3 linked regions of the Homo sapiens genome follow. The protein of the gene in region 2 interacts with the protein of the main gene of each other region in a pairwise test. Each region holds a gene or a part of one and is shown on either strand. Other genes may lie near its edges.

What was found. Proteins that work in one complex are often made in the same cells at the same time.
Region 1: the proteins of FRMD6 (region 2) and SYT17 interact in binary tests that used the Homo sapiens proteins (3 or more experiments, as listed by UniProt).
Region 3: the proteins of FRMD6 (region 2) and RASSF8 interact in binary tests that used the Homo sapiens proteins (3 or more experiments, as listed by UniProt).

The regions. Positions count from the first base shown.
Region 1 is NC_000016.10:19,171,217-19,178,241, forward strand, and holds part of SYT17 (synaptotagmin-17), read left to right. Parts: intron 1-1,118; exon of another isoform or gene 1,119-1,367; coding exon of another isoform or gene 1,368-1,398; intron 1,399-1,412; exon of another isoform or gene 1,413-1,538; coding exon of another isoform or gene 1,539-1,543; coding exon 1,544-1,561; intron 1,562-2,213; coding exon 2,214-2,362; intron 2,363-7,025. UniProt on the Homo sapiens protein: Plays a role in dendrite formation by melanocytes.
Region 2 is NC_000014.9:51,724,901-51,731,243, reverse strand, and holds the end of FRMD6 (FERM domain-containing protein 6), read right to left. Parts: intron 5,466-6,343; coding exon 5,374-5,465; intron 3,640-5,373; coding exon of another isoform or gene 3,607-3,639; exon of another isoform or gene 3,500-3,606; coding exon 3,215-3,499; 3' UTR 517-3,214; downstream 1-516.
Region 3 is NC_000012.12:25,953,820-25,961,683, forward strand, and holds the start of RASSF8 (ras association domain-containing protein 8), read left to right. Parts: upstream 1-4,862; 5' UTR 4,863-5,329; intron 5,330-5,506; exon of another isoform or gene 5,507-5,623; intron 5,624-7,864.

The DNA of each region.
Region 1 (7,025 bases), on a different chromosome or scaffold from region 2:
TTCCCAAGCTGTTGCTATTCCCTTACCACTTCGAGGATTTCAATTTTTTCACAAGCCACGTACCACCTATACTATGATGATGATGATGATGATGATGATGATGATGATGATTATGATTATTATTTTAGACAGGGTCTCACTCTGTCGCCCAGGCTGGAGTGCAGTGGTGCGATCTCGGCTCACTGCAACCTCTGCTTCCCAGGTTCAAGTGATTCTCCTGCCTCAGCCTCCCCAGCAGCTGGGATTACAGGCGCCTGCCACCACGCCTGGCTAATTTTTTGTATTTTTAGAAAAGAGGGGGTTTCACCATGTTGGCCAGGCTGGTCTCAAACTCCTGACCTCAGGTGATCCACCCGCCTTGGCCTCCCAAAGTACTGTGATTATAGGCATCAGCCACCACGCCCAGCCCTACCTATGCTATTATTAACTTAATTTTTTTTCTATAAATGGGCTCATTTTTATTTTTACTTTAAAAAAATCATATGAAAAGGAAACATTATGTCACTAATATCATAGGAAACCAAGATCATGTGACATCGCAGAAGGCAACTAGAAGAATAAACCCAATGGGAATAATGCCACATTACTGAATTCTAGGTGGACGTGGCTGTCTCCAAGCCTCTGGACAAGATCTACTTTCTTTGTTTAAAAGAAAGGGGATGGGGGAGGGTGGAAATTGGTAAGTGGTAAAAGATGTTAACATGTAGTGGTACCAAATTGAGACTTTCTCCTCCTTAAAGGAGAATCGGAAAAAAGATAATAACTTTCTCCCTCTTGATTCAAAGTTCTGAGTTTGAGTCCCACCTCAGTTCACCTCTGGGACATGCCCGAGGTTGGGATGCAGTACTTCTAACCTATCTAGCCTACTTGGCCCATTTGGAAAACCACCTTAAAGAGAAGGAGGGAGTCTGTGCCTTGAGAACCCAGGAGACGAAGATGGGGAGGCGGGGTGGGGCCACAACAGGAAGGGAGGACCTCCTTCCTCAAGAGGACCAGATTAGGGCTTCCTTTTTAGTTCCCTCTATTTGTGGGTGGTGATAGGAAACACCCCACCATCACCATTGGAGCAGAATTGGAAGGTAGGGCCTCCGGGAGGGCGGGGGAGCCAAGTAACATCCACTGTGTGCCTGCCTGCATGTTAGCTAATCATGTCCTTTTGGGTTGGCTACATGGCTATTTCTGTATAGGAAGGTTTGCTCTTCTCCTGAAGTGTGGCTGCATTGGATAGCATGACTATCTATCCGCCCGCTCTGATTCATAACAGCATACGGTGCAAATCAAATCGAAATGCTAAAGTTTCCCATTTATTTGGTGTTGGTTAACCAGGAGGCTACCAGCAGCCCTGAAAATAGCAACACCTTGTTAGGATGTTAGGAAGTCAGCTCCCTTCCCAGGATGGTAAGTGGAAATATGCAGGGCTTTTTTTTTTTTTTGTAAAATTTTTTTGAGTTGCTGGAATATTGCTAAACTGGTCTTGTCTCTCTTTCTTTAACCCCTTCGTTCCCTTACGCCCTTGGCTTCATCGTGGATCTTAAAAGGGCAGTTGGAACCATTAAACGAGGTGGGTTCATTTGATGATTTGTTTGGTCTGGTTTCTAATCAAGAAATGCCTGACTTTCATTTTGGAGTCTTATGTGGGGCTGTGGGGATATTGAATATTCAACAATAACCTGGTGTTAATAACGGCACAGTTTCCATTCCTTTCTACCGAAAGGAGATCCCGGTTTTGAAAAGACACCAGTTGACAAGACAAGTTTCCCTCTCCACCCCTACTTATTCCGTTTGATTATCTCTGTCTGTTTCATGTCACCGAGATTTTTTAAAAATATTTTTTCCCCTGCTTTCAAGAAGACACAGTAATATTCATTGTGTTTCGAACATATCGTATAGCCCTTATGATGTTGTATAAACCACCCACATGTCAAGAAAGACGTTCACATAAACTACAAAAGAAAATACCTGCAAATGTTTTGCTTGCTACTAACGGCTCCAGCGAGTTGATGTTTGCTATCTTTGTGCCTGCAGTTGGTAAATAGAAATGGAAAACATTTTGTTCTAAGTGCTGAGCAGCAGAGCCAGAACTCCTGAATGTCTATTTCTCATCCGAGATCGGCTGCTTGTAATTTTGGGTGTTGTTTCTCCTCTTCCTCTTCCCCACCCTGCCCACCTCCCCTCTCCCCCATCCCCCCGCCCACCTCCCCCAATGGCCTCAGGGTTTTCTTTCTAGAATCTCTGGTCTGCTGCTGTGCAGATGGACCTGCCGGCACTGCTGTCAGAAGTGCTACGAGTCCAGCTGTTGCCAGTCAAGTGAGGATGAAGTTGAAATTCTGGGACCTTTCCCTGCTCAGACCCCTCCCTGGCTGTAAGTAAAACTGCTCTGAACTTCTCTGAAATCAATTTCAAGACTTTTCCTTTTTAATGAGAAGGCGGGTTGGGGGTCTGGGCCACGGGAGGGAGGATTTGGGGGCATGAAAGAGAAGCAGGCTGAGTTTCCAGGGACAACTTTGCTGCAGACTGGGGATATGTTCTGTACCCCTCATTTTGTTCGGCAAGCTGGCGAGACCAGCTGGTGGTGTGGTTTTAGTTCACCTAGTGGCACATCGGGCCTTCTGAGATACGAACCGTGTAATGCTAAGCGTGTGGGCGTTTTTAGTCACGTGGAGCGTGGTTCCGAGCAGAAAAGGAGATCTGTGAGCCGAGCCTCTATATTCTTCAGGGGCTGACCGCATTCTGAGGGTTTCCATCCAAGTCAGCGTGACAAGATTCCCTAGCACTTAGCCCAGGGCCTGCACATAGTAAAAGCTCGATAAATATCCATTGCATGGATGGGTAGACGGAATGAACAAACAAGTGCCTTTTTGCTGCTCCGAACAAGAACTTCAGAAACAGGGAAGCAGAAAAGCACCTCCAGGCTCCATCCTGTCCTCCAACGCTGTTTATGTTCTCTCTGGCATCTTTCGTTTTATTTCTAATTTGCTCTCCTCCCGCGCCTGCATACAACATCTCCATCTGCCAGTCGCTCAGATATTTTGGGAACGCAGTTTTGAAGCTTCTCAGCCACGTGCCTGGTCCACCTCTCCGTGACTGAGAGAGGGACGTGGTCAGAGAGCCTGGGTACAGTCAAGAAGGTCGGGGCTGGGAAGGATCAAGAAGTCATCAAGTGAGCTTGTCATGCTTCGGAGGGGCAGGCCCAGAGAGGGAGACAGACAGCGGCCAGGACCCACAGCTGGAGCCTGGCAGAGTGGAAGGAGGCAGCGCTGTTTCAGCTCAGTCCTTGGCCTGAGATTCCAAAAGTCTCTGGTGTCCCATCTTTCCCTCCAAGCTGGGGGCTCATGCCTCAGGCCTCTCATTTTCTCTTCTTAGAAGCAAGTATCAAATATTTCCATAGCAAAATGGTTCTGTATCCAGGCTCTGTGGTCTCAACTACTATTTCGAGTTCTGTGACCTTGGGCAAGTGGTTTGATCTCTGTGTGCCTTGATTTCCCATCTGTGAAATGGGATGATAAAAAGAATAGTATTTCTCTCAGAGTTGTCGAAGGGAGTCAATGAATTTGGAATGTGGAAAAGTAGTTAGGAATGCTTGATACTTTGTTGGTGATCATACATGTAAGTAACTCTGGCTGGGCGCAGTGGCTCATGCCTGTAATCCCAGCATTTTGGGAGGCTGAGGGCAGGCGGATCACTTGAGCTCAGGATTTCGAGACCAGCCTGGGCCACATAGTGAGACCCCCCCCATGCCCCATCTCGACAAAACATCAAAAAATTAGCCGGATGTGGTGATGTGTGCCTGTGGCCCCAGCTACTCTGGAGGCTGAGGTGGGAGGATCGCTTGAGCCTAGGAGGTTGAGGCTACAGTGAGCTGTGATTGCGCCACTGCACTCCAGCCTGGGAAAGAATGAGACCCTGTCTCAAAAATAAATACATAAATAAATAAATGAGATATGCATATAATATGCTTAGCACAGAGCAAAAGTTTTATAAGCATTTATTTCTGTCAGTATTAGGTTTCAATAGAGATTAATTAAACTGATACAAACACAATGTTAAAGAACTCTTCCATTATTCATTATTCATAAGTTGTGGCCTGAATCCTACAGGTGTGTGTAGAGTTGAGATTTTTGGTGAAAGCAACTCATTAATCAAGAGATAATTCACAGCCGGGTGCCGTGGCTCTCATCTGTAATCCCAGTGCTTTGGGAGACTGAGGTGGGAGGACTGCTTGAGGTCAGGAGTTTAAGACCAGCCTGGGCAACACGATGAGACCCCTATCTCTACAAAAATTTAAAAAATTAGCTGGGCACGTTGGTGCCTAGAGTTCCAGTTCTTCGGGAGGCTGAGTTGGAAGGATCGTTTGAGCCTGGAAAGTCAGGGCTGCAGTGAGCTATAATCACGCCACTGCAGTCCAGCTTGCGCAACAGAGCAAGACTTCAAAAAAAAAAAAAAAAAAAAAAGGATTCTACTGGTCTATGTAGCAGAAGTTAGTTCAGTCCATCTGATGTCCTTAAAGCTATGCTCACAAGAATGCTATCTCCATGTGGGCAGGGAGTTTTGCCTGCCTTGTTCACTCAGAAAAAGTTGTTGACTGACAGACTATCCTGCAGGCAGAACTTGCATCCTGAAAGTGCCAATCATCAGTTGAAAAGTTAATCTCAGTTCCTTTTGTAGTTATTTCTTAAGTACAGTGTGCCAGGCGCTGTGGTATACACAGGGCTAGATAGGGTCCTGTGACCATGCTCAGGGAATTTTCAGTCTCACGTAGGAGGTAAGGCAGGTATGTAAGTCAGGTTGCCCCCTAGAGTTGTGCATTTACACCCTGCATTCCATATATGACAGTCCTGCATAAGACCTTGTTATGAAAGAATCAGGAATGATGGCTTCAGGCATAGCTGGATCCAGGAGCAGAAATCATGTCATCAGAGCCTTTCTCTCTCTCTCTTTCTTTCTCTGTTTCTTCTGTATTGGCCTCATTGTTAAGCTTGTTTTCTCCATGTGGCAGCACTAGACTTGCATTCTGTTGCGGTTGCATAAAAAACGAACAAACAAACAAAACAAAACCAGGAAAGACTCTTATTAGCCTGGCTCGGGTTATGTACCAATCACTTTCACTTGGAGGAAATGGTGCTAGAATCATGCCAGTTACCTGCCCACCCAGGAAACCAGGGAGATGGTCATTTCCACCAGAAACACAGGAACTGAACTATTAGACCAGGGGTTGGCAAACTTTTAAAGGACCAAATAATAAATATATTAGCCTCATGGGCCATATGGTCTCTGTTGCAGCTACTTATTTCTACCATTGTTATGCAGAAGCAGCTGTAGACAGTAAATGAACGGGCACGTCTGTGTTTCATTAACACTTCATTTACAAAATCAGGCAGTGAATTTGGCTTTGTAGTTTGCAGACCCCTGTAATAGACAATTGGGGTATTGTGACTAGAGGGGAGGAAATTGACTAGAGAGGTGGGCAGACATCACCCCTTGTAGAGATAGGCGTCTCATTGTGTTGCCCAGGCTGGTCTTAAACTCCTGACCTCAAGCAGTCCTCCCACCTCAGCCTCCCAAAGCACTGGGATTACAGGTGAGAGCCGCGGCAACCGGCTGTGAATTATCGCTTGATTAATGAGTTGCTTTCACCAAAAATCTCAACTCCACACACACCTGTAGGATTCAGGCCACAACTACATCTAGGAAGAGCTGGGGGAGCCTGCAAGCTTAGGCTGAGTTGGGTCTTGAATGCCAGAGTAAGGAATCTGGATTTTCTTCGATACCAGCGGAGACCCCTCACAGGTGTTGAGTATCACAGCCAGGTACCTGTTTGCCCCCTAGATATCCAAATGTTGAGTGTTACAGATGCACAGCCTAGGTTCTCATGTTGAGCTGGAGGACAGTTGCGTTTTGCCTTGACTGCTGCTAACCCTTTGTGTAAGCAGGGGCAAGGGGGCTGGGACCCTCTGGGAAGATACTTCTTTTGGTTTTGCCACTAGTAGAGAAGTGGACTGGAACTTTCCCAGCAGGGCCAATACACCACAAAATTCCAGGTGGCGCCATTCACATGGTGGCCATTATGAATGGCACCACCTAGGGTTGTGCAGTCTACAGACTGAACAGCTGTGCGTGACCTTTGTGCTTCCCAGGATGAATGAGGTCTCTTCTGAACACTGGGCAGTGCTTAATACAGTTTTGACACTCAGCATAATGCAAAACGGTAAGAGAAATCTGTAAAGGGAAGATGGCTAAATCATTCAGAAAGTAAATTTACAGCTTTGTGTTTTCCCCAGATTTATTTACCAAGTGGGCAGCTGCATGTTATCAAACAGACAGGAAGTAGAAATGTCAAGTGTATGGGCTTTGCAGTGCTGTTCCTACTGCGACATTTGAGCCAAGAACCATGGGACTTGCCTCTGTGGACTGGCATGTGGCAGATGAGCTGGCCCTTTGTGTGTGCTCTGCGTGTGATCTTGGGGATACATTAATTGTCACATATGCTCATGTCCTGTGGGCCCCCAACTTTTCTTGGCTGGGCTGGGCTGGTGAAGATTAGGAAAACTGCACAATCTGACTGGTGCTTTTTGAAGCAATGCCAGAAAGACCCTCATTGAAGAGTGAATTAAAGTCAAGTTGGTTGATTGTTTGTCGAACAAGCACATATTGAATGCCTACAATGTGCAGAGCTCTTACAGCCCTCTCAGAGATGCCCCACTTGGCGATTGGGAGTGTGTGCCATTTAGAGTTTAGCATTACTGGCTTAGCTGGGGTTCTGCCTTTTAACAGTGGTGCAAATTAGTTATTCATCCTTCTCCCAACCTGTATTAGTTTGTTTTCTGTTGTGATAAAGGGATACCCAAGACTGGGTAAGGTTCAAGTGATTCTCCTTTTTTTTTTTTTGAGACGGAGTCTAGCTCTGTCGCCCAGGCTGGAGTGCAGTGGTGCAATCTCGCTCACTGCAAGCTCTGCCTCCCGGGTTCATGCCATTCTCTTGCCTCAGCCTCCCGAGTAGCTGGGACTACAGGCGTCCGCCACCACGC
Region 2 (6,343 bases):
TGGGCTCTTTCCTTAATGCCATGCTGCCCTCACGTTCAGCTTTGTGAATGCATGCTTTTAAATGCAACCATTTGTTTATTTTATAATTAAACCAACAGTCCAATGATGACGGTTTTCAGGTTTAAGTTACTTATTTTGGTTAAAATATTTCCTTTTAAAGGAGAGTTTTTTTCAGCTCCATAATTTGAACTCAACAGTGGCTGACTACCACAAACTCCTGGAAGCTTGATTCCTTCACATCTGCAACTAAGAATAATAATAGTACCTGCCTTCTGGGGATATGAGGATTAAATGACTGAACACATGAAATCTGAATACATGTGAAACTGGGTCTGGCACATGGTAGTACTCAGCATCAGTTATTACCATCGTCACCACCAGGACTGTTTTACTTGGAATTCTATCACATGGAACCTTGTTGTCCTTTACTGTGCTCCATTACAGCAAAGAACATGAAGAAAACACTGTCACTCCTTAATGCTTCTCGCTTGAGAGCTCTAATAATCAAAAAGGCAATTTAAAGGCAAAAAAGTAACTTTATTGACTGCTAATCTTACCATGAAATATCTATAAGAAATAATTACAAAATAATGCAGGTTTCTTTTTACATACTTTTGGTATCATCTTGATATGATGATCCTTTCACAGAAAGGATTATTTACAGTTTATGTAGATATAAAGCTCACTGTTGCATATACAAATGTAGATGTGCAGAGGCAATATATACCAAAACGGGTATACTGACAAGCGATAGATATGTAAGAAATGCAGAATAAATAACAGCTTTATATATTTCCTTTCCTTTTTATTTTTAAAAACAATTTCCAAATACAAAACATGGATTATTCAAAGTGGATTTTTCCTATACATATATATAATTCTGCTGCAAACAGTGGATCAAAAAGCAGAAGTGTTCTTAGCATGATTCATCTTTGAAAACCCATAGAACTATTCATAAATCCAATTAGAAAGAACATGTGCAAAACCACCAACAATGTCAGCAAAACCTCAAAGATCTGATTTTGGTTGAAGTAGAGAGAAAATAAACATAAAGCAGTACCTGTTTACAGTAATTAAATATGTTTTTTCTTTATCTTTCTTTCTTAAATATGTCTTTTTTTAAATGTTTGCAAGAAACTCTAAGGGCTAAGGAAATGCACTGCATTATGATCTGGGCTCCTTAGAGTACAAACCTCACCAGGCTTAAGCATCATCCATAAGAAATGGTGGATTACTTAATGACTTATAAGTAAAACAGTCATTAAATGATCCTTTCATACTTTAATCCTCTTATGCAGAGACTGAGATACTTCCATACATTCCAATATCTGCAACTTTGGTTCTATTAAAGTATTTGATAAAAGCAAAACAATTTTGTGACCACAGAACTCTATGGAACTTTTTTTCCTTTTAAAGTGTCAGGTGAACCTAGCGTGATAAGGCAATGTTGCCTACACATCCGCGACCCAGCACAGGAGGGACAGCACAGACAGGGCATGTTCCAGCTCACCATTTGTTGTATAATACTGACTCCCAGCCAGGGGTAACACTGCTTATGTTCCACTGTACCCTACATCTATTTCGTTACCTGAAAACATAATTTTGTATAAAAATATGATTGTTTCTTTAGAAAATAATATATAGTTTTTTTAATAAAACTGGGCAGATAGAAAAAAATGGTATATCAAAATATGGTAAACAAATGTTGTAAAATACTAAATCATTAAAAATATCTTATAGAAAGACATTGTGCTATGAAGTTCTCTCCTGAAGTGTGAACTACGTTTTTACTTTACATCAAAAGATTGATAAATTCACTCCCCTGACTTGGTTTCATTATATATTGTAACAGCAGCACAACAGGTAACTGTCTTAAAAATGGCCCTTTCTCATACACTACGTCTTCTGTACACTTTTACTTCAAAATTAACAAGACACCCCCAGGATCAGTGGTTTTCAACTTTGTTGCATATTAGCTCCATCTGGAGAACTTTAAAAGAAAAGGCAATTCTACTTGGGTCCCGCCACAAGAGAATGATGTAATCGGTCTGGTGGGAGACTCAGTCATTATTTTTTAAAAGCTCCCCCCAAAATTCTGTTATACAATCAGTGTTGAGAATCATGGCCAAAGGCACATGAGAAAACAGTCATTCTGAACTCTACATATATCAACTGACTGTCTGCAGGTATCATTCACTCAGTGACATATTCTCAATCTTAAGGAATTCCATGTATAAAAGATAGTCATGGAAGCCAAAATGAAGACATAGTAAGCTTTAAACACATATAGACATACACAATCCCATGTATTTATATATGTATAATATATACACAGAGTATTTTGGTTAAGCAGAAACTAGCATTGCCATAATTTGTTCTTGATAATTAAACAAATAAAGCATCACCAAGCACCAACGTTTTCTAAGACATTTTCCAAAGTTTTAACAGACACTGGTTTTGTAAACTCCACAAAATGCATTACAACATGAATATAATTCATCTGTTACTTGGATGTGGAACTCAAATGAATCCTGGAGCTTTCTGGAAGATCACAAAAGAGGACATGGCACTGAGCGGGATGAAGGAGTCACAGGCATCACAGCATGCACTTCTGGTTTTCTGCTTATTGCTTATGTGCTTCTGTCACATACGTATCTTTGGCTTGCTACAACCTTATGATTTTGACCACTCCATCAGTGTTCACTTTGGGACAGCCTCAGGGAGGAAGCAATGGGTATACAGAGCAATCATCTCTCTGTTAAAAGAAGAGAGAATCTTCCCTCTTTCCTCTCCCAAACTATGAGCATTTTATGTGGGAGTGGTAAAAAATTTATAAGCAAACAAATCTAACATCTTTCACGTGATAAAAAAATGTGATGTTACATGTAACTGAACTAAAAAGCATCAGATGAGCAAACACACCACACTCCAATATTCTGAAGGCTTTGCAATCAGTAAAGCGCATTTCCTTCTGAAGGATCAGTGAACTTCCGGGCACTTGTCTTGCTGTACATTTTCTGTAGTTCTTTTACTTCTGTGTAATACTTAAAGTGCAATTGTTCCAAGGCTTTTGTTTCCATCATCACAAATATTATAAAGAAAGAGCTATGTTTAGGGTGAAGAAGATATGGCACAAGTAATATGTAAAGAACTTATGACTTTCGCATCCTCTAGCAAACAGTAAGCTGCCTGTACAGCTGCACACAGACGGACTTTACACAACAAACTCTGGAACTTCATCATGAGTGAGATCCAGAGAAAAGTATTTGCTGGTTCTTTTGACTGGAAAAGCATCTTGGATGTTGATGCACTGCTGGGCCAAGCAACTGTTGCAATAGAGGCCTTCCTCATCCAGTTCATGGCCACATCCAAAGGTGTAACTCTGAGCAGTGTCCTGACACAGACCTGCAATGCGCAGGAAGTCTTTCTGGTAAAGTCTGATGTCATCGAGGCTCAAGCTGTGTCGATCAGTGGAGGTCTTTGGTTTCCGACATATAGTCTGCAAGATAAGGGAAGGATGAAACAACTTTAAAGTGAAAGGTTAGAATATTTGCCTTGTAAAGAGAGATGCTACAGAACCACAAAAGGTTAAGTAATCCTTACATGTTAGAAAGTGGTTTCCAATCTGTGGTTTCTGGGCTGTATGGGGAAATATATCATCAACACCACCTCCATCAGTAATAATAGCAGCTAACATTTACCGAGCAATTACTATGTGCCAGGCCCTGACCTAAATACTCGGCATGCATTAACTCATTTAATCTTCCTAACAGTCCTAGGAAGCAGGCACTATCATTCTCCTCATTTTACAAATAATCCAAAGCACAGAGGTGCAAATACAACAGGAATCCAACTATCCCTAGCATTTCAGAAATCAAGTAATTATCTTGAAATAAGGTCATATAGGTAAAGACATGGCTTCCTTTTTTTTTTTCAGTAGGATATGGCAATTCAGACCTTTTAGGCCAAGGTCTGTTATTATTTTATTAAGAAATAGGAAAATAAACCAATTATTACCAAGAAACACAGTTTTTCTCTTTAAAAGGCCAGAATTCTTGGGTTGAATATAAAGTGTTCTTGGTGCTGGGTAGGATATAGGGTGTTCTTGGTGTTGAAGAGGCTGGGAGGCAGGCACCAGGACTAAGTTCCCGAACACGAGTCGGGGGTGGGGGGGTTCCGCCAAATGCTGTACACAGCAGGGGGCAGACTTTTTTTTATTATCCCAAGAGGTGGTATTAGAAATAGGTTAAAAATGATTCTGATAATTATATGAATGGAAGATATGCAATGGGTTATTTAAGGAAACCAGGTATTATATCTTTAAATTTTGCTGCTTCCCACCACAAAGGACAACCCTGTTAGAATAAGATACAATTTTTGCTAGAGGCAAAAGTTCCAGAAGCATGTTTTACTAGGAAGTGTCACATCCGAGTGATCCCTTGTGCTGATGCTGTCTTCCCAGACTCCAACAGGATTTCACACATAGAATCATTTGGTCATCCCCACAAACTCTCAAGGAAGGCACACAAAGTTCTCCCCATAGTGTAGGTGTGGAATCTGACTATCAGCTGTGCCCCAGAAACATCTCTTAAGAGTAGATTACTCATTGCAGTTTTCAGGAAAATATTTCATAAACATCATTTTCACATTATGGTTACTTCAACGCAAGTAAGAGAAAGAAAAGACAAATGAGAAAAAAGGGAGGAAAGAGGAAGAGAAAAGTAGGGACAAGGAGAGCCAGAATGCAAATGAAAAAAGAGAAACACACACAGAAGGGAAAAAAACAAGACACAAAGAGAGCCCAAGAAAGAAAGGCAGGAGGAGGGAGGAAGTGCTCAGGAATTAGGGCCATTAGTCATACATTACATCCAAATGCTGAAACCATGAGTTTCAGAGTATTTTATCTATATTGCTGGACATTTAATAGTTTAACCAATGATCACAGGTTGTCAAATGCTCTAGGCTCAGCATACTTTGAAAATTCAATCTGAATGGAATAACCAGAGTGTGGAAACATTTCTGCCAGAACACACTGACAAAAAATATTATTCTCCCAGGTTGAGGACAAGCAACACACACAGACACATGCATGTGCACACGTGGTTCGCCTGAAGCCTGAAGAACAGAGGCTTCCCAACCATATAAAATGTGAAGCAAAATCTATAACTTATCTAAGTAAAAATCAACTCAAAGATAAGCAGAACTAGCAAATAAGATGGAAATAAATTCAGAATAAAGCTAGAATGTACGTATCTAGGAAGGATCATTTCCTTAGGGTTTTTAATTTTTGCTCATTTGTATAAATGTAAGTTACTACTTAAAATTTTCTATAACTTCAGTTTCCTAACTGATATTTTTCAATTCCTTTAATACCTGTGGAAGAGAATCAGTACTCTGGCCACGAAGCTTAACAACTGTTTCTGAAGAGCTCGAGGTGGAAGACCCAATTTCTTTCACAATCAACCCTGAAATAAAACACAGAGATAAAAACAATAAATACTTCAAATTATTCACACCTCTTGCCATATATTCTGACATATTGCTATCAGGAATGAAAAATCAAATATTAACCATTACCAAAAAGTTTCACTGTGACTCTTTGGTGGCAGACAACCAGAACAGCACACACACTCTCTCTCATCTTACAGTAAATAGAGGTTAATGAGTCAAAGTAGGGTTAGAGTGTAAGAAGATGTTTAGTCTGAATTTTCTAAAACAAACTTCTAATTAAGCTATTTATGATGAAGTTATAGAAAAGAAGCAAAGACTATAGGTATAAAGCAGCCTCTTTACTGCATCTCATAAAGCTTCCCCTCTTCCCCTTTCTATTCAGCAGCAACATTAAACTTAACCCTTACTGAACACATGCCTTCTAGATTTGGTTCGGCTTGGATGTATAGTGGTGAATTGTGGGGGCTCTGGCCTCTGAAGTCAGATAGATCTGGCTGGATCCTGGCCCAGATAACTAATTAGCCATGTGTCCTGGCCAGTTACTTAGCCTCCCAGTGTCTCAGTCTCCTTCTCGTATAAAATCGGGCCAATAACAGCACCTGCCTGCTAGTTTTAATAATTACACAGTGAATGCATAAAAGGGTGAGGTACAGGGACTATACATGGATACACTCAGTTCACAGCAGCTCTTTTTGGGTGATGGGACACTTGGCACATACCTCCTGCAGCAGATCCCCCTGGGAGGAGACAAACTGGGAGGCCACAGTGAAAATTCAGTACTGGGTCTTTGAGAACAACAGAGCACCTAACCTAAGCACTTTAGCACTCGGTGGAAACCCGCCAAAATTTCAGAAGCAGAAATCCAGGGCTGACATTTCCCTATGTGACTGGC
Region 3 (7,864 bases), on a different chromosome or scaffold from region 2:
ACTAATGATTTTTCCTGACCGAAGCACACAAGAAAAAGAAACAAAGGGTATAGAACATAAAATTCCTTGTGAGTTTCTTAAAGCCAGAGTTCATACCCCTGCAGTATTGTTATTAAAATATTTACTGGCGGTTTCTATCTGACCCAGTCAGATAACCGAGGCATCTAACTGGATCCAAGCCAGTTAATTATCAGATCCAATCAAATCCTGGACCCAGTCCAATGTCTATCGACTTCCAAACTCAGCTAAGATCAAAAATTTGCTCAAGCAAGCTTGAACAGCTGAAAACGGCAATGTATGGAGCTTCAGAATCTGAGAGAGAATGCAGCCACAATCTCCAGTTGCTGTAAGAGAGCAGTGGACACTGCGAGAGGACGGGCCCAGCAGGTACCCCTTGTGGTCACTCAGTGCTCCTGGGGGATCACTGGGAGCTCTACTTTGGGGTCCATTTCTGACACCATCTGTTAAAAGAAAAACTTCAGACAAATTAAATTTAGCAGAGCTCAATTGAACAAAGAATGACTTGTGAATCAGACAGACCCCTGAACCAGGATAGCTTTGGAGTGACTCCAGTGCTGCTGAGTGGTTGGAGAGAATTTATGGACAAAAAAGGAAAGTGACCTAAGAAAACAGAAGTAAGGTATAGAAACAGCTGGATTAGTTACACCATGACATTTCCCTTATTTGAGCATGGTTTGAACAGTTGGCCACCTCTGATTGGCTGAAACTTGGTGACTGGTACAAGAGTAGGTTACAATCTGTTTAATCATTGGGTTATAGTTCACTATGTATGAAGAACCTTTAGGTTAAACTTAAAATATTGAAGGAGGCAGCTTTAGGGTAAATTTAACACTAGGAAGCTGTAAGTAGTTTATTATGGGTGATACACAGAGTCGGGCAAGAAGGGGGGCAGAGGTGGAAAGACGGGTGAGACCAGGTAATAAAGAATCTTATGTTATATTCATAAGTCCATAATTTATTCCTGCCAGCACCACATACCTATTTGTTTAAAAATTTCATTTCCATAGCCCCCCTAGACTTCCTCATGAAGGAATTTCCTAAGACTTTGACCTTGATGAATTCTGATTCATTGACAATCCCTTCTTTATTTTCTTATTTTTATTTTTTCACTTTCTTATGGTCCTGAGACCACTCCTTTCTGAGTACAAGCATCTTGGCTGGCCTAGAATATAGTCACAACTGTGTTCCACGGACTTTACTGAAGGTGGAAACAACTGTCTTCCCAGCATCCCATCTGTACTGGTCCATTTGCATTGCTATAAAGGCAATTTATAATTCACAGTTTATTATGGCTCACAGTTCTGCAGGCTTATAGGAAGCATGGGACGAGCATCTGCTCCTGGTGAGGCCTCAGGGAGCTTCCAAACATGGTGGAAGGCAAAGGTGGAGTTGGCATATCACCTGGCAAGAACAGGAGCAAGAGAGAGAGGAGGAAGATCACAGACTCTTTTAAACATCCAGATCTTTCATGAACTCATTACTGCAGGGAAGGTACATAGCCACACAAGAGATTCCCCATCACCCAAATACCTTCCACTAGGTCCAACTCCAACATGGCGGTCACATTTCAACACGAAATTTGGAGGGAAAAAACATCCAAACAATATCACCATCTTACAGGCTGGTGTTGTCTGGTGGGCTGTTTGGGAAATACTGGTCTAGACACATTTCTCAAACTTGGCAATATGACTCCACTGGACATTAAAAAGGGATTTCCAGGTATTTCAAGATAAAGGGATTTATTCTCAGGAGCTGCAAACATAAGCTAGGTTTTCTTACAGTGTTAACATCTTGGTTTCAGTTACACGGGTCACCAGATTGATACAGATTTAGCTGAGGTAATAAATCACTGCTTCAGCAATCTTAACAGTCAAGTCAGTTATCTAACGATGATTTGACAAGTAATGAGGTCACCTGCCATTTCCTCCCATAAGTAATTCAACTGCATTTAGTTCATAATACATATGGCTAGAAAAGCATCTAAATCAATTCCTACGATCAGAGAGAGAGATGTCCCCATCACCATGAAGCAGAAGTTACAAAGAAATGGGGGAAGATGCTATGCAGTTGGCCTTAAACATAGAGAAAGGGACTATAAGCCAAGGAATGCAGGTGGCATCTAGAGGCTGAAAAGGGCAAGGAAATGGATTCTCCCCTCGATCCTCCAGAAGGAACACAGCCCACACTTTGATTTTAGATTTCTGACCTCCAGGTCTATAAGATGATCAATTCATCTCTCGATATGGCCTCCTCCTGTTCATTGCCACTGCTCTCCAGTTTAGACTCTCCCTTGGATCTGCCTCTTTTCTGAATCCATCCTCTCAAGTTGTTTTCTTAAAAATCAAATCTTATTATGTCACAGGGTTTGAAGTGCATGAATACTCACTGACTCTAGTTAGGCTCCTTTCCTGGAATATCATTAGAAACCAGAAGTAAGGGTTGTTTACAATTCCCATCAAGGACATTTGGTGTGATCTCAGGAAGGCTTAACAGGGATGTGATTATAGCTACCAAAAAAAAAAAAAAGCTTAAAACAAATTGTACTACACTCTGAAGAAAGAACGCATTAACCAAATGGGCTAGGTAGGGTAAAGATTTTTCTGCACTTATCCAGCACTGAATGGAGGCAAATTCACTGACTTTGGCAGCCATCAGTAAGACTGGAGGTGAGGATACCTGGATTTTTAGGAAGGGTTTTTCCTAAATAGTAGGTATTGTTATCCAATCAGGAAGTTCTGTCCTGATATAAATGCTCATCATATAAGAGTTAGTTATCAAGAGTCAGTCAACTTGCTCACCTCTAGATGTGGTAATACTGAGGTCCAGATCCTCCTGGTGATCAACACAAACTGGATTAAGAGTCAGCTACTCAGTCAGATCCTGAATCCTGGTCCAACGATAACCACACTCTTGCCTGCTACCTGCTTCAAGAAGTACACAAAAGAGGGATCACTACCACAGCCAAAGAAAGGAGGAAAGTTTTTTTTTTTTTTTTTTTTTTTTTTTTGAGATGGAGTTTCGCTCTTGTTGCCCAGGCTGGGGTGCAATGGCGTGATCTCGGCTCACTGCAACCTCTGCCTCCCAGGTTCAAGCGATTCTCCTGCCTCAGCCTCCCAGTTGCTGGGATTGCAGGCATGTGCCACCATGCCCGGCTAATTTTGTATTTTTAGTAGAGACGGGGTTTCTCCATGTTGGTCAGGCTGGTCTCGAACTCCCAACCTCAGGCAATCTGCCAGCCTTGGCCTCCCAAAGTGCTGGGGTTATAGGCATGAGCCACCGCGCCCGGCCAAAAGGCAGAAAGTTCTAAGAAGGAGAGGTCAACATTGGCAAATGCCACAAAGGGCACAAGATGGGAATTAAATTTTTCCATTAGATTTGGCAATTAAGCAATGGCTGATGTTGTTCAGTGGAGTGAAAGGCTGAGAAGGGAATGAGAGGTTAGGAAACATTCACCTTAAGGCTAGGCAACTCCTTTGAAAAGAGTCAAGTAGGGTTAAGGGAGGATCCATGCCCTCCAGGTTGACTTTTAAATCATATTCCCTTTGGTTTTGCATTTGAATCACAGTGAACTTTCTCCTCTCCAAATGTTGATTTGACAAATTTGAGTCTTACCATGGCTCTCTTCTCAGTCCACCTGCAGGTCAAGGAACTAATGAGGTGTGGAGTAACTAAAGGTCAAAAAACAAGAGGAAGAAACAAAGGGCCAAAAAACCCCAAACCTTAAATCAGGTCCTGAGTCAGATACGCTGTAACAAATTCTGCTTCAAGTTTAATATTCTTGTTTTGATGATGTTTAAAAAAAGAAAAATAAAAGCAAGTGTCTGGAAAATTAAAAGGCGGGGTGGGGGGGGGCATTTTAATTGGAATGCTTTCTTGTATCTCATCCACTATCCGCACCCCATCGCCCTGCAAATTAATAGCTGTTGCGGAGTTGGGGTATGTGTGACCACAAAATCCAAAGGCTGAATTTTGCCCAGTGCCTGAGTAATTGCATGCCACACACAAAAAAACAGTAGAATATTGAAAACAACATACACATCTGTATTTCCATATGAAAGCACCCGTTTCCTTTCTTGATTATCTGCTATTTTTAAAGGGGTTGGGAGTGCAGCGGGGCGGGGGGATGAGGCGTTTTTTCTGAATACGAGCCCAGCTCTTTCTAAACTTTTGTTACTCACGTCCGTTTGATTCATTTGCTGTGTTTTTTCTTTCTTTCTTTTTTTTTTTCCCCTCTCCTGCCTCTGTCATTGCCTGCTGCTAAGAGGGACGCTGAATCACAGCCACTGCAGATGAAAAGCAATTCAAACCCAGTCCTTGGAGGGGGGATGGAACGGCTCTTTTTGATTTTTTTCCCCTCTGCAGAAAAAGCCTCCTACTTTCCGGGTGACCGTAGAGGGCAGTTTGACAAGTCTCAGCCCCGGGCGATGGAAGATTTTGCCCGTGGGACCGTCACGAGCCACCGGTCATCTCCCCGCGCCCGGCTTTCGGGTCCTCAGGCCTCGGTGCGTCGCGGGCCAGGCGACAGCGGGGGGGCGTCGCGGGCCGGGCGAGCGTGGCCCGGTGGGCCCGAGGGTCGCGCCGAGCTCCCCGCCGCTTTAAAAGCTCCCACAATGCAGCGCTGGCGTCCCAGTTCCGTTACGAGGTCTCTCCCGGCGCCGGCGAGCGGGCCAGGCGCGGGCGGGGCGCGGAGGAGCGGCGGCTGAAACCCGAGCGCCCGGCCGAGGGGGGCGCCCCCGCGCCGCTCCTCTCGCGCGCTCAGCCGCTGCCCGGCGAAGGGGCGGAGCCGCCTGGCCGCCCGGCCCGGCCCGGCCCGGCCCGGCCCCCAGCCCGGCCCCCAGCCCAGAGGCACCGGCCGCGGGAGCGAGCGGGTCGCCGACTCCTACGCCCGCGCTCCTCCTACGCCCGCGCTCGTCCGGCGCCCCGCGCCGCGCCCCGCTCAGCGTCTGCCGCCCAGCTCCTCGCCCAGCCTCGCCGAGCCTCGCCCTTCCCGCCCGCGGCGGCGTTGGCGCTGGGGGCGGCTCCCGCGGCGTCTCTGCCGCTGGCCGAGCGCTCGCGCACCGCGGCACCCCCGCCAGTGGCGTCCACACTCACCTAGCGCGGGCCGGGAGGTGCGCGGAGAGGGAACGCCGGGGGGCCGGGGCCTCCAGCCGGTGCGGGGCGCGCGGCGCGGGGAGCGCCGGGGAGTGCCGGGGAGTGCGGCGCGGGGACGGGCGCTGGGCGGCCGCGGAGCTCCGGGTGCCGCCGCGTCCCCAGCGCCCCGGCCGGCCCCTCTGGGCGGCCTGCGGGGGCGGCGCAGTTGCGAAACTGAGTAAGTATTAACTTTACTTAGCGGCGGCGATCCGGGCTGCGCCGGGGACCCCGCCCGTCCCGCCTGCAGCCTCGGAGCTGCCCTCCGCCCGGTTGCCCCTCTCTCCGCACCTTGGGTACCTCGTCCGTTCCGCCCCCACCCTGCCCCGCCGCGGGCTCCCGCTCCCTCTGCGTTCACCTTTCCTGGTGTGTCACCCTTTGCGCCTCTCCTCGCGGCACACAAGCCGCGGACTGAAAAGTACGAGCTTGGTCTTTGCTTTTCTGCTTCCTCCCAGTGTCCTTGGCAAGGGAGTTTAGAGGCCACTTTTCTTGCAAAGGGAATTTTATGTCTGGTTTTTAAAATATTTTTTCCTCCGGATGGAAATCGGATGCTCGCTTGCCGGGTGGCGGTTTGGTGAACGCTTTTCTCCTCTAAAAAAATATTGGTTTATAGGTTTTTAAATTTCATTTGAACTATTAACCATCTGCATTCTATTCTCCTTTGCCGCCAGTCCCTTTGGGGAGGGGAGTCCAGAAGAGGGGACGTTCAAAGTAATTCTGACTTGCAAACTAGAAAGTTTGAGAGGGTAAATCGCACAAAGCCGGAAGATTCAACTTGAAGGGACGCGAGCTTTGAATGTGGGTCCTGGTGCGGCACTGGGTTTTAAAAGATGAGTACTTGGGTTCGGAATCCAGTGTTGCGTTGTTATTTTAGCATCATAGAGCCGCCTGGTGTTGCTAAACCACTACTTTCCCAGCCTCAAATGGCATCTTGAACAGTGCAACGTAGGATATATAATTGCGGGTCAATATTGTTGCTGATCTTTAGGGATTTAGAAGCGAAATGAATGCAAATCACGTCTCATAGCTGACTTAAACCTGTCAGGTTAGCCCTGTCAGGTTAGCATTAAAGCATTTCATTAAAAAAAAAAATCCTCTAGCCCTGTGACAGCAGGGACGAACATTTATGGATTTTCCAGTAGATTGTGGCTCAGCAATTCATTAGATCTGCTTTGTCCCCAGGAAGCATTTTAAAATATGTATAAATCTCTGCTTTTCTCTCCATTAGATTAACCACTCATTCTGGTAGGGGGCCCCAGGTAGTTTTTATTTTCTTTTTTGCCTTTCATCTTGGAGTTGCCAGGAGTTGCCATCATGTTATGAAGGAACAGAAAATGAGAAGCTTTCTTAATGGGTTTTCGACATCCTGTCCTTTGCCAGAGTGAGGCGGTAGTGAATGCCAGCCAGCTTTCTGCAGGGAGAGGTGCAGGGTGGACGCAAAAATCAGGACGCAGGAGACAGCACTATCATTTGGGGAAGTGGTTTGTGTGAGTTTTATCTTTTAGCGGGCATACTAATGGTACTTTTAATTTTATTTATCTCTATGAGGCACACTCCCCAAACCATAAAATTACACATGACCATCCCCCACTTGAAGAAGACTGAACATAGTTTGATGATTATTCTATTCAAGGATCAAGTACAACAAAATATAATTTGTAATACAGATGATAAAACCTTTCAAAAATCTCCCCCTTCCTCATTTTTTTCCTCAAGAGTCTCCAGGTGGTACTTTCTGTGATGGACACAATTGGCAGTAATGCACTGAGTTCTTTCTAGGTTTATTGATCAAATCTTATGTCTGGGCTTTAGTAGCTTAGGGGTGCATTAGAGGGCCCTGAGAGGGAGCAAATCATGGGGCTGTGCAGGCAGGAAAGGCACTTCACTTTGCAGAAGTGTCAGTGTGCTTCTGGAAAAAACAGTTACAAAGAACAGAGAGTGTTTAAGTTGTTTATAGGATGCATGTTTCCTGAATTTGGCATTTGGTTCAGATATTTGGTAATTACAGATTTAAAATTCGACATGGTTGTATAATTTGTTTTGCCTTTTATTTATTTTTTTAAGGTTGCAACCTTTTAACCTGAATCTTCAGTGTTTGGCTCTTGTAGGCTTCTATACGTGGTGACTTACGTCAGTTTTTGACCTGACTGCCTTGTGTTTTGAGAAATGATTAGTTCTTCAGGGTTTCTGACTCATTAATTGATCTGTTTTATGTTGATGTATATAATGACTTGGAAGTAAAAATATTGTTTGCCGTGGGATATTGTTGTCTTTTTCTTATGGTTAATTCCTGGCATAATGGCTTTGCTCCTTTATTATAAAACATTAAGATCTTAGATATCTTGCTAGTGTTCAAAACATTACAAAACTCTTTGCAAGTAAAAGTGGAGTGGGAATGGGAGTTGGATAGAAAAACATGCATCATAAATTAAAGATTTGGATTACAAAATAATATAACGTTTATTTACTCTTCTTTGATGCTAACTTGCTCTAACCCTAAATAGACTTAAAAATTCAAAGTGTAGAGAGAGTTTCCAAGTATTCTGTATAGTGGAAAGAATGTTTACCCCACTGCCAGCCAGACTTGGGTTGCACGTGTGACTTTGTCACTCCCGAGGTGAGTGAGCTCGGCCATGCCACTTCAGCCTCTGTGATCTACAGTTGCATTTCTGGAAAATGGGGATACCACTACTTAAAGGGATGCTATGGTGAGTAG